Homo sapiens: one gene and its partner. The protein of the gene in region 2 purifies or fractionates together with the protein of the main gene of each other region. This does not show direct contact. Each region holds a gene or a part of one and is shown on either strand. Other genes may lie near its edges. The genes, in order: POMGNT2 and ELMO1.

Region 1 (3,638 bases), on a different chromosome or scaffold from region 2:
TTCCCTAAGTGCAGAAACTCATAACTGGGCATGTCCCTTGAGGGACCCTGGGAACTCTGATTGTGGGTTGTTGAAAACACATTGACTCCTATGGGGCATGGGCTTCTGAATCAAGGTGGCCCTCAGGAGTACTGATGTAAGGACTGCTCCTGTGGAAGGGAACTGCTGACATGGCCCTGCTGGCATGCTGAGCATCTCTCTCCATCCTTCTAAGAAACTCTGATGCCAGGTATGATCTGTCCAGGTCTTGCGAGTCTTAATGTCTAGTTGAGCCCAAAAAAAAACCCATGGTGGATACAGCTCTTCCTCCCCTCAGCCCTCTCCTACCTACTTCTAGGCTTTTATCCCATGTAGGTGGAACTGTGATATTAGTCCAGCTAGTCAAGATGAAATCCAACCAGCTTGCTCACTTTGCCATCCTGGGCGCTTTCCCATTGCCACGTCTCCCTAGCTAACAATCAAGATTAAAGGGCACCTGGGTTTTGACGACCAGCTCCCCTTCCTCCCATCCAATAAGAAGACTTGACCAAGATGCTTAGAATCATTTAATGAATGTTCCAAACACACCCTTCACTGGGCTACAGGTAAATTTCACTGGGATGGAAGCAGATGAACCACCCAATCAAACAGTACATGATTACTCGGTTTCCAGAAATCTGGATACCAGAAAAACTCAGTAGGAAACATCAGGATCACCTAGCCAGAGGTTCCTTGTGATTCTTTGCTTCCTCCTCTCCTCTTCCTCCTCCCTGCTAAGGAACTTCTCCAGGGGTACAAATGTTCAGGATGGGAGAAGGGGAAGTCAGGTCCCTTATCTCTAGGGCAAAGAGGAGTGCTGTGACACCACACCCCAGAGACAACAAGATGATGTGGAGGCACAGGCCTGCTCAATAAATAGTTCCCAGAAGTCTCCACAGTGGGATTAATGGGCCCAGGGACGCTGAACTGCAGGAGCCACCTTCCCGAGGCCAGGCTGTGGCCTGCTCGCTACGTGTTGCACACCAGCACATCTGCAAAGGGTCCCAGGAGGATCTTGTTGAAGATGCAGCGGACCCACACCAGGTAGGTGGTGAAGGGCTTGATGTTCTCAGTGAAGGTGTGGTTCTGCAGAGCCAGGATGTAAGGCACGTAGGTGTTCTCCCCCTGCTCCTGCAGCCACACCTCGTACTTCACCTCCCTCACCTTCAGGTATTTAAGGTTCCATGGGATCTGCCAGGAGACAGTGAGGCGGGCCTCGGAGGCGCCATGCACTGACGCCTGGCACCGTGCCTCCCGCACCTTGCCTGGATATAGGCCGACTGTCCACTTCTGCTTCCGTGGTCCTGGCCGGCCCTTCACCACGCGCCGTATGGTTTGAATGAGGGACGGGATGTCCACCTTGGTGTCCTGGTAGATTCGGAAGAGCCACTCGGGGTTCCGGCAACAGAGATGCCGTGGGACCTCACGGCTTTGCAGGATACGGGCTTGCTCAGCCCGGTCCAGATGGGTGATGCCCCCCTGATCCCAGGGCCGCTCAGGGTGTGTGACTGTGTTCTCTGGCATCATGTTCCGCCAGGCTACATACTGGAGGTCCATGCCAGGCAGCATGGCCAGCGTCTTATAGGGAGTGTAGTGGTCGGGATTGACAGCATATGGGAAGAGCTCTACCACAGTTGCCCCACGGGGCAGGAAGAGGGTGGTGACCAGCTGGGCCCCATGCATGCTGACCAGCATGGAGGCATTGCTGACCAGCCGCACGACATCAGCAAAGGTGTGGTCCTCCAGGGACACTGTCACTGTCTTCATCTGGAACTCCTGGGCCAGTGCCAGCAGCAGCTCTGCCTCATTCAGAATGAGTCTGTTCTGGGTTCGGCTAAAGACCAGAATGTACTCCTCGCCTAGGGGGACTCCTGTGTGGCTCACGTTCAGCTTTTCTGTCATGAACCGTGCAAACTGCCGGATCTCATTGCCTGAGACGAGGATGTTGGCCTTCGGGCCCTGGGGCTGCACAAAGCCATACTGGTACCAGGTAGTGATCTTGGAGAGGCCCACAAAAGCATGGGAGAAGCACAGCAGCCGGCCCAGGGTCTTCAGCTGTGCCCGCAGGAGAGGCTGCTTGGGGCTGAGCAGCTTGTAGAGGTCGAAGTGTGCACCCTCGCCCCAGCCCTCCATGAAGAAGAGCCGTGCCTCGTGGGCCAGGCCGGGAAACTGCCGCAGGGTGTAGAAGAGTGGCAGCAGGTCGTCATGAAAGACGTGCATGAGGTTGTCGGGGTTGAAGCGGTTGGCGATGAGGGCCACGTCTGGCACGAACACCGGCTTGGGCATGAAGCGCAGGGCAGCAGCAGGCAGCTCCACGAAGTTGAAGTACTGAGTGTTGTGGTCCTCCACGGTGGATAGGTCGAGCAGGGCTGGCTGGAAGCGCCGGGAGCCCAGGTTGGGCAGCATGACAGAGGTGTTGCCATGGAAGAAGATGAACTCCTCAGCCTCGTTGGAGTAGCAGAGCCACTTGAAGCGGCAGATGCGGTCTGTGTGCGTGCGGCCCGTGCACACCATGTGTGTGCCGCCCTCCATCAGGATCTGCAGTGCCTTCGGGTAGTCGATCCTCAGTGCTGGGGCTGGCTCTGTGGCCTGTCGGCTGAGGGCCAGCTCCTCCTCCAGTGTGGCTGCATGCTCACGCAGCCGCACATGCTTCCACAGGACCGCTGCCAGCACCGACACCAGGAGGGCGTTGAACACCGCCGAGAGGTGCATCCTAATGCCACTGTGGGGCCCTAATGAGATGACGGCCACTGGGAAGCACCACAGGCCAGGCAGGCTTCACCCATCCCTATGGGCATCCTGAGAACTGGTGAAAGCCTGCAGGAGGAGAGAAGGAAAAGAAAAAGGAATTGGCAGTCTTCCTGGCATCATTACAAGCTCCTGCTATGTGCCAGGCACGGTAGCTAGGCTCTGTGTGCCCGCTACAGCACTGGATCCTTGCAGCCATTGTGCACATTGGTAGGCGTGGTAGATTAGACCATTGTTTAAAATATTCTCTCCCTCCCCATCGCCTCCATGTTGGAAAGTGCATCCCCACACCCGACTTTGGGCTTAGCCATTTAACTTGCTTTGGCCAGTGAGATGTCAGCAGACAGAACATAATCAAAGGTTTGGAAAGTGTTTGGGCTGGCCTTGCCCTCTTTATGACACTGCCATAAGAAGAATGTATTCAGGCTAACTTGCTGGCCCCAAGAGGAGCGAGATACGCATGAAGCAGAACTGCTCCGGCCATGCCCTGTTCTAGTTCAGCTGATCCCTCATGACTGAGTGGGCCCAGCCAAGAGCAGCAGTGCGATCAGCCAAACGCAGCCAAGATCAGCCAACACATAGACATCAGGGCTGAGCAACAGCTGATTAAACATCCCTGAAATTCTGGGGCTGTTTGTGATGAAGCACTGCTGCAGCAAAAGCTAACAAAGAGAGGCCATAGGAAAGACAGGCCATAGGAAAATCCCTTGCAGGGGCCTGACATTCCTGGACTCTGGGTAATGACTTTTCCTTAAATGAGAACAACTGGCATTGGAGATCTGTGAACACTGTTCCCAGGTTGCACACCAAGACCCCAGTATGCCGCCTTTGAGAGACACACACACGTATGGTCAGCTAAGCTTTGCTCCTGC
Region 2 (7,592 bases):
CCCCACCCACTCACACCAAACACCCAAAGGGGTTAAATTACTTTGAAACACTCAAGAGTTAGCTTCTTTTCAATATAGTAATTTAGTAAATGTTCAAGACTTAGCTGCACCTGCAGAACACCTTAATGTTTTCTCACTTTTATTTTTCTTCTCCTAGGCATTTCTCATCTCCCCTGCATCTGCCACACAGCCTCCCTTACAGCCTCCTGTCTTCACTTCCATATTGTAGGAGAGCAGAATGGGACACAGTAGATGCCTCTGACTTCAATCCCCTTACAATCATGCCCTTCCTCCTAGGCTAAAGCAACACAGACTTCTTTAAAAGACCTTCTCCAAGGAGAGTGATGAAACACCAGATCTGGAATGGTTATGTGTCATTAAGTGTACTGGTTATCTAATCTCCCAAGGAATCACCTCTCTGTTCCTTTCTTCAGGCAGAAAAAGGGAGGAGTCTACTCAAGGCAGAACAGAGTCTAAAAGAAGAGTGGCCTGGCATGGGGGAAAGGACAGCGAAAAAAGCAAAAGCCCATTACCTGGGCTTCTCACTTGCACTAATGCTGCAACATTTTCCTGGTATATTTCCCTGGTGGATCTCTCCCAGTATAGCCACCTCTCATTTAGTCAGTCAACAAACACTTATTGAGCACCGACATCATGCTAAGAATCCATCCAGGTTCTGGAGCTGTAAACAAGACAAGGTAGTCACTACCCTCATGGAACTTCTGCTCTAACAGGGAGAGAGACAATACTCAAAATACACCAATGACTGTATAATGCCAGGGAGTAAAAGGTACTAAGACAAAAAACTGAGTAACATAAGAGGCCCAGGGAGTGTCTGGCTGCTATTTTATATGGGGTAGCCAGGGAAGGCCCCCTATAAGCTGACAACTGGACAGAGACCTGAAAGAAGCAGGGGAAGTGAGTCATCTGGACATGTGGGAGAAAAGCTCCTCCTGTAATATCATGGGCAAAGGCCCTAGGGAGAGAACTCAGTGAAAAAGAAGAATGTAAGACGGTGAGGGTGCCTGCAGTTACCAAGGACAGTAAGCATGACCATCACTAGAACTGCCCATCTTCTTGCCCAATGACTGCTCCAGGCCCTGAGTTTCCCCAGACTCCCATCCGGGTCTGCCTCCGAGCCTGCCCCTCCCTGATACCTACCATACTTCTTGTTCTCCAGTTCAGTACCCTCCTGACACAACCCCTCCCCAAGAGTCCCAGCAGTCCAGGTCATTTTCTCAAAATTTACCAACCTAATAAAAACAAACAAAACAGAGTAGAAACAAGGCAGCATGCACATTTAACCACAGCCTTCCAGAGATAGGAAATGTACAATAATAAAGAGTAAAGCTTCAAAAGGTCAGCTATAAGAAAAATTAAAAATATGTGATGTTTCTGCAGGGGATCTGGCCTCCTAACTTACCATTATTTTCCCCCAGATCTGTAAATTATGGGACATTAATGCTTGAAACAACCTTGGAAAGTAGGCATGGAGGTGAGATAATATGAGAACCCTGGCCAGAGGAGACCCCAATAATAGCTGCTGCCGGTTTTTGCAATCTCAAAGTGATTCTGAGAAGGATTATATCCCTCTATGTCCCAAAGTTGCTCGCAGGGTTTTGGTGTGTAAATACAGGTCATTAATTACTTTTATAGAAGCAAAAGAGAAACACTCAGATATTCTTCCATAGCTTCATCCCCAAGTCACTGGCAGCGCCCAACAGGAAGCCTCCGCTTCTGGAGGCCTCAACCCGTCTTAGATTATCTGAAATCTTAACCATAACGAATTAGGCCCGAATCATTCAAGGCCAGCGGTGTTGGGAAGCCCATGATCCAGCGCGGGGGGCATCCCAAATATATTCACTGAGTCTCGGGAGCCGTCCAGGGACTCTCAGAGCTGGGTCACTACCTGGGACCAAGCCTGAGGCTGGTCCTTTAGGTCAAGGCAGGTCCCGACCCGCCTCCAACTTCAAATGGCCCCCTAGGCGGGAGAGGGTCACTGGGCGGGGAGTTCCTGGCTGTGCGGTCACACACACACACACCGACTCACACACACACCCACAACACCCCCCCCACACACACACACTCACACACACACCGACGACACACCACACACACATACATACGCGCGCGCGCACACACCACACACACACACACACACACACACACACACACACGCCGCCTCGCGCGCGCTCGCGGCACAGCACCGACTTCCCAACCCCAAACACACGCGCGCACCCCCGGGACAGCTGAGTTCTGTATTTCCTCTTCCTCAAAGCGACTCCGGCGATCGCAGTCGCCACTCTCCGCTCCGATTCCCGGGCCCCCTGGCATGCCGCCGCCCCCTTCTCTGAAGGCGCGCCCGGTGCGTCCCCTCTCCGAAGCCGAGATTTCCACGAAGCTCCACAAAGCTCCCCGCCGCCTCTCTCGGTCTCGGCGGAGACCCCGGTGTGTCCCCGGGAGGAGAGTATTTACTAACCAGAACCTCAGGGGCTCCCGGCTGCCCAGACCGCCCTCTCCGGCCCTCCTGGCCCCCATTCCTCTGGCCCATCACCGCCCCCTCCCACGAGCGCGCTCGCCGGGGGATTCCCTCCCATCCCCGAGTGCAGGAGAAGACGCCGAGTCTGAGCCGCAGCCGCTTCTCTAGCTCTATAGGAATCTTGACTCCAAGATCCCAGCCCCACATCCCCCGTCCCCAGTAACCCCGCGCCAGCGTCGCAACCCTCCCGCGCCCCCCCTCCCGCAGACCCTGGTCGAAATGTCTCGGCGGGCTCCCGGGCCCCGGGCCCTGCGCTTCATCCGCGGGCGCCGCACCTCCAGCGCCCCCTCCCTCCGCTCCCACTCCCACTCCCGCCATCCCCGGAGCTCAGACTTCCCCAACTGCAGAGCGCCCCGACGCGCCCGCAGCCCTCACCCTGCCGAGCGCGGCGGCCACCCCCGCCCGAGCCGCGGCGCCCCCAGGGAGGAAACAAAAGTGTCTCCGCGGCGCCCGGAGTCCCCCGGAGCAGGACGCCTCCTCCCGGCCCCAGTCCCGGCCCCCTCCCCTGCCGCGCCGAGGTCAGCGAGTCGGGGCGCGGCGCCAGCCCAGGAAACTTTACGAACCTGCTTGGGGTCGCAGGACAGCAGCGGCAAGGGTTCCCGGCGATCAGAGCTCCGGCGACCCGCCACCATTGAAGGGGAACTGGAGGCTCTGTCGCCCAGCGTGGGGCCGCGGCGGCGTGGGTGGCTCTGCCTCTATCCTGTGCCCATCCTCGCCCGCTCCCGCTCGCCCCAGCACACGCACTTACACTCTGGGTCGGCCGGCTGCTGCACCGCCGGCTGCCGCTGCTCTCACTTCCTCTTCCTTCCTCCTGCTGGCCAGAGACACATTTTGCATCTGCAAGGCATCCGGAGATCAGCCGCGAACTCTCCTCCCGAGCGGACGCTGCGGAGTTGCAGCCGCCGCCCCCGGCACCTGCGCCAGGACACTCGTGGTCTGCGCGTTCGCCTTGCGCCCGCACCCTGCCTGGTCCCTGCCCACTGCACTTTGCCTAGGGGGATGCCCACGACTTTTTGAAGTCCCCCTACTTAAAAGACAGAAATGTCAAACACCATGCATGCCTCAGATCTGCTATAAATAATATGTGTGCAGAGCATGACTTCGATGAGCTCACACACGGCGTTTGGAGGCACTAATTAACTCCGTCACCCTCATAGCGCCATCTCCGGGAGGCCAAAAGCGAGTAGCATCTTTTCACATCCTTTTTTAATTTTTGGCAACCGGTTCCGGATATTAAGGGGAAACTTCGGTGGGCTGTTTGAACGCTACTTTAAGACGTGTTTGTTTTGACGCTGTGCCTCTACCCTTGGACAGAGTGGCAAAAAAAAAAAAAAAAAGTTTCCTCCCTCTCCGTCGACATCTATGTATTTACTAACCCTGCAATTGAAACTACAAGATGTATTTCTAACCAATTAAGCCAGGGACTTCCTAATTTTGCATAACTTTGCATAAGGCAAGACGTTCCACCCATAATTTGATATTTAGAATAAATTACTTAATTCATGCAACCTACTTAAATCATTTTCAAAGCAGAAATCAAAAACGTTAACTCCCAGCCTAGCTGGCAGGAGGGAAGAGGGTTGCAGGCGAACCACCTGTCCTCCCCCAGTTCAGAAATACCTACATTGGCTCTACCGGAAAAGTCAAAGGCAGTTCGGCATTTTCTTCTAATTGGCAAAGGAAATAAGTCGGGGGCAGGGAGGCATCAGAATCAAGGTGGAAAACTAAGCTCCCTTTTAAGATCTTCCCCCTCAAGAGCCACAGGCAGCTGTTGAGCACTTGAAATGTGGCTATCCCTGAGATGTTCTGTAAGTGTAAAACAGACATACAATTCAGTATTTTTAAAATGAATGTAAACTAACTTGTTAAGTATGTTTATGTTGATTACATTATTGCAATACATGAGAATAGTCTGATGTAGTAAGTCAGTTGGATTCGTCATGTGTTGGGTTAAGATATAAGCATATATAAGATTAATTTCACCAGTTTCTTTTTACATTTTCTGATGTAGCTACTAGAAAATGTAAGGCTACACATAGGCTCTCATTAGTGGCTCACCTTATACTTTTAATGAACAGCTCTGATCTAACTCCTTATTATACGCATGACTCTGGGAGGCAGTATTAGTATCAAGAGTGCCTGGGTCCAGATGGTTATAAGCCAGTAACTAAAGCAGGGTGACTGCAGGAAAGCAACTTAACTTCTGTATTTCCTCATCTATAAAACAGTAATGATATAATAACAAAAGTCAATAGCACCAACTATTAAATGAAGTAATTTAATAAGTAGTCAGTAAATGGAGCCTTTACTAACGATGCTCTGAGACACTTGTAGTGATAAGTATGAATTTGATCTACAACCTTGTAGCTAAGGCATATAAAGACCTTAACTTTAGTGCATGCGTGGTGAGCACTCAGTAAACATTAGCTGTCATAATTGTTCCCTCCTTGCACAGCAATTATGCAAATCCACTCCCCTGTAACCTTTGGTCCCGGGTCTTCACATCTTTCCTCCATGAAGTAGTCTTTCAGATCTTTGAAGTCAGCCCTCAAATTTTACCTAAACACTCTCTTTTGAGGATTAACCATCCTCAATTATTCTGACTCTTCTTCATGTGACATGGCTTCAAGTCTCTCTCATTTGAGCCATCTTCTCCCAGAAGAATATCTGTCTCTGCCCTTTAAAAAAAAAAAAGAAAAAAGAAAAAAAGAAAAAAAAGTAGTCTTATAGATTAATTACGTAATTAACCATTAGCAAACACAATACAGCCTGAGATCTTCTCTCTCTCTCTCTTTTTTTTTTTTTCTCAAATACATCTCAGTGTTGATAGGAGTGCAAGGGGAAGACTGGAAATTCTTTACAGTGTTACGGTTAGGCCATGTGCGGGAACATGGAGTTGATCTTTGGAACCAAAGTTCCTGATCCACTTTCTCTAAGTCCCTTAGGATTTAATTCAGGCATCCAGTGTCTCCCCATATCCATGGATTACATTAAAATATTAAGATGCCACATGACATCCCACTAAGGAGCTCCCTCTGCTAAGCTGGGAGAATAGCATTCTTTGGTTCACTGGTTATTAATAAACTGCTTAACAGTGCAATTGCCAAACTTCAATTTTCTCTTCTATTCATAAAGACATCTTAGAAGTATTGTCAAGTGTCTTAGAGGAACCCGCCTTCTCCCTCAGCTCTGCTGGTGGTCAGCAATGGATGCAATAAAGTGGAATATGTGGTGTTGTCATGTATGTGGGCTCCATCTTTGGACCTGGTTGTTGTGTATAAATCCCACCATTACCATTTACTGGCTGCATTACTCTTAACTCATGAGATTGAAACCATGTCTGCCAGATACGGTTAAGTGAAGATTAAATGAGTTAATTCATGAAAAATTCTTAACAGGGCCTAACACATAGAAACACTCATTGAATGTTAGCTATTATTATCTACAATAGTTCTTCAATGGACAAGTCATATTAACAGACTCAAAAAATAAAAGAGCAACATCCACTCCCTCTTTTCACATGTCAGTCTCCACCCATAATGGTGAGAAAGATCTGTTGCCACTGTCCCTTCTCAGCTCCTGGTCACAGCTTGGGCCATTCAATCATTAGGTCATGCTTTAGCAGTGAGGACGGCCATTTTATAGCAAGGAACAGAATCCAAGTGCATCCCTTCACTTGCACTTCTGGTAAGCCCACCTGGGCAGAACTTAGACCTTTGTGCAGACAGGCCAGCCTCATCCACATCTCAAGTGGTTAGGGAGACTGATTCAGGATCTCCTCTGTAGAACCATCTGTCTTAGTTTCAGGATAAGTAGAGGAAAAGAGAGCAGGGTAGGGACAGATGGCTGGAAAATCAAAATCACTTAAGCCTCAAGTCTAAGCTTCATTCCCCCACCGTGTTTCTATAAGAAAGCTTTGAATTGTTAATGGACAGAGAGGTATTTGGGGCAGTTTCTCATATTTAAATACTTTGATCTTGTGTTTCCCATGTCTTTATCTTTCCTTGTGTGTACAAAATTCCAAACTAGGAGGATTGAGATCCTATCAAAATGTCACCATGCAAAGTGTCACCATGAAACCCCAAACTGCAATAATGGCCTGTTGTATTTTTAATCAATGATGACTCACATTGATCAACTCCTTCCTAAGTGCTCATAAATATTAATTTCTAATTTAATTTTTAAACATTGGATTCTAAATGGATCCTGTGCATTTAATAATACATTCAGTAATTTGCTCCAAATTTCTGCTCCAAATCAGCACTAAATTCCTTGATCTACAGTTTGACAAATCTATTCCCTTTTCTTGTGTTAGAATCAGGCTCATGCTGGTTTGCCTCCAGTCTTCAAACAGCTCTGGGGACATAGAGAGTTGCCTCAGCTCCAGGAAGCCGCTACACCAGGGATAATGAGATCTGGGCAGCAGGCAGACACCTGCAATTTAGAGCCACTAGGGTCAGCCCTGGAACAAGCAGAATGACACGGAGGGCTGCTGTGAGAGGGCATTCCTTCACTTGATCGTTCATTAATTCAACGTGCACTGAATGCTTTAAATGTGAGTTTAAAAGGGAGGAAGGGAGAGTACAATCACGAACAAGACAAACATGGCTTGCCCCCTTTTGGCACTCCCATTCTAGCTCAGAAGACAGATTTTAAATGGCCATAAAAACAAGTGAGGAGTATAATATTAGGAGAAGGACAGAAGATTGCAGGACTATGCGGAGACAGGGATGCTAACATCATCTGTAAGTCAGGAAAAGCCTCCTGGGGAAGTTCTGTTGATTTGAGACCTGAAGGGTGAGTGAGGAGGTGTTATCCAGGACAAAAAGACAAAAGGAAGTAGGTTGGTAATGAGGAAGGATTCTAAGCAAAAACAGTTAACTTTGTATGAAGGTTCACATCAAGCTTGTCCAACCCACGGCCCACAGTCCGCATGTGGCCCAGGACGACTTTGAATGCAGTCCAACACAAAATTGTGAACCTTCTTAAAACATTATGAGTTTTTTTGTGATTTTTTTTTTAGCTCATCATTAGTGCTAGTGTATTTTATGTG

Evidence for each region.
Region 1: the proteins of ELMO1 (region 2) and POMGNT2 purify together in Homo sapiens (co-immunoprecipitation; 2 studies listed by BioGRID and IntAct, with this or other methods). This does not show direct contact.

What each region holds. Positions count from the first base shown.
Region 1 is NC_000003.12:43,078,702-43,082,339, forward strand, and holds the end of POMGNT2 (protein O-linked-mannose beta-1,4-N-acetylglucosaminyltransferase 2), read right to left. Parts: intron 2,836-3,638; 5' UTR 2,731-2,835; coding exon 988-2,730; 3' UTR 533-987; downstream 1-532. UniProt on the Homo sapiens protein: O-linked mannose beta-1,4-N-acetylglucosaminyltransferase that transfers UDP-N-acetyl-D-glucosamine to the 4-position of the mannose to generate N-acetyl-D-glucosamine-beta-1,4-O-D-mannosylprotein.
Region 2 is NC_000007.14:37,445,573-37,453,164, forward strand, and holds the start of ELMO1 (engulfment and cell motility protein 1), read right to left. Parts: upstream 3,293-7,592; 5' UTR 3,103-3,292; intron 3,007-3,102; exon of another isoform or gene 2,915-3,006; intron 1-2,914. UniProt on the Homo sapiens protein: Involved in cytoskeletal rearrangements required for phagocytosis of apoptotic cells and cell motility. Acts in association with DOCK1 and CRK. Was initially proposed to be required in complex with DOCK1 to activate Rac Rho small GTPases.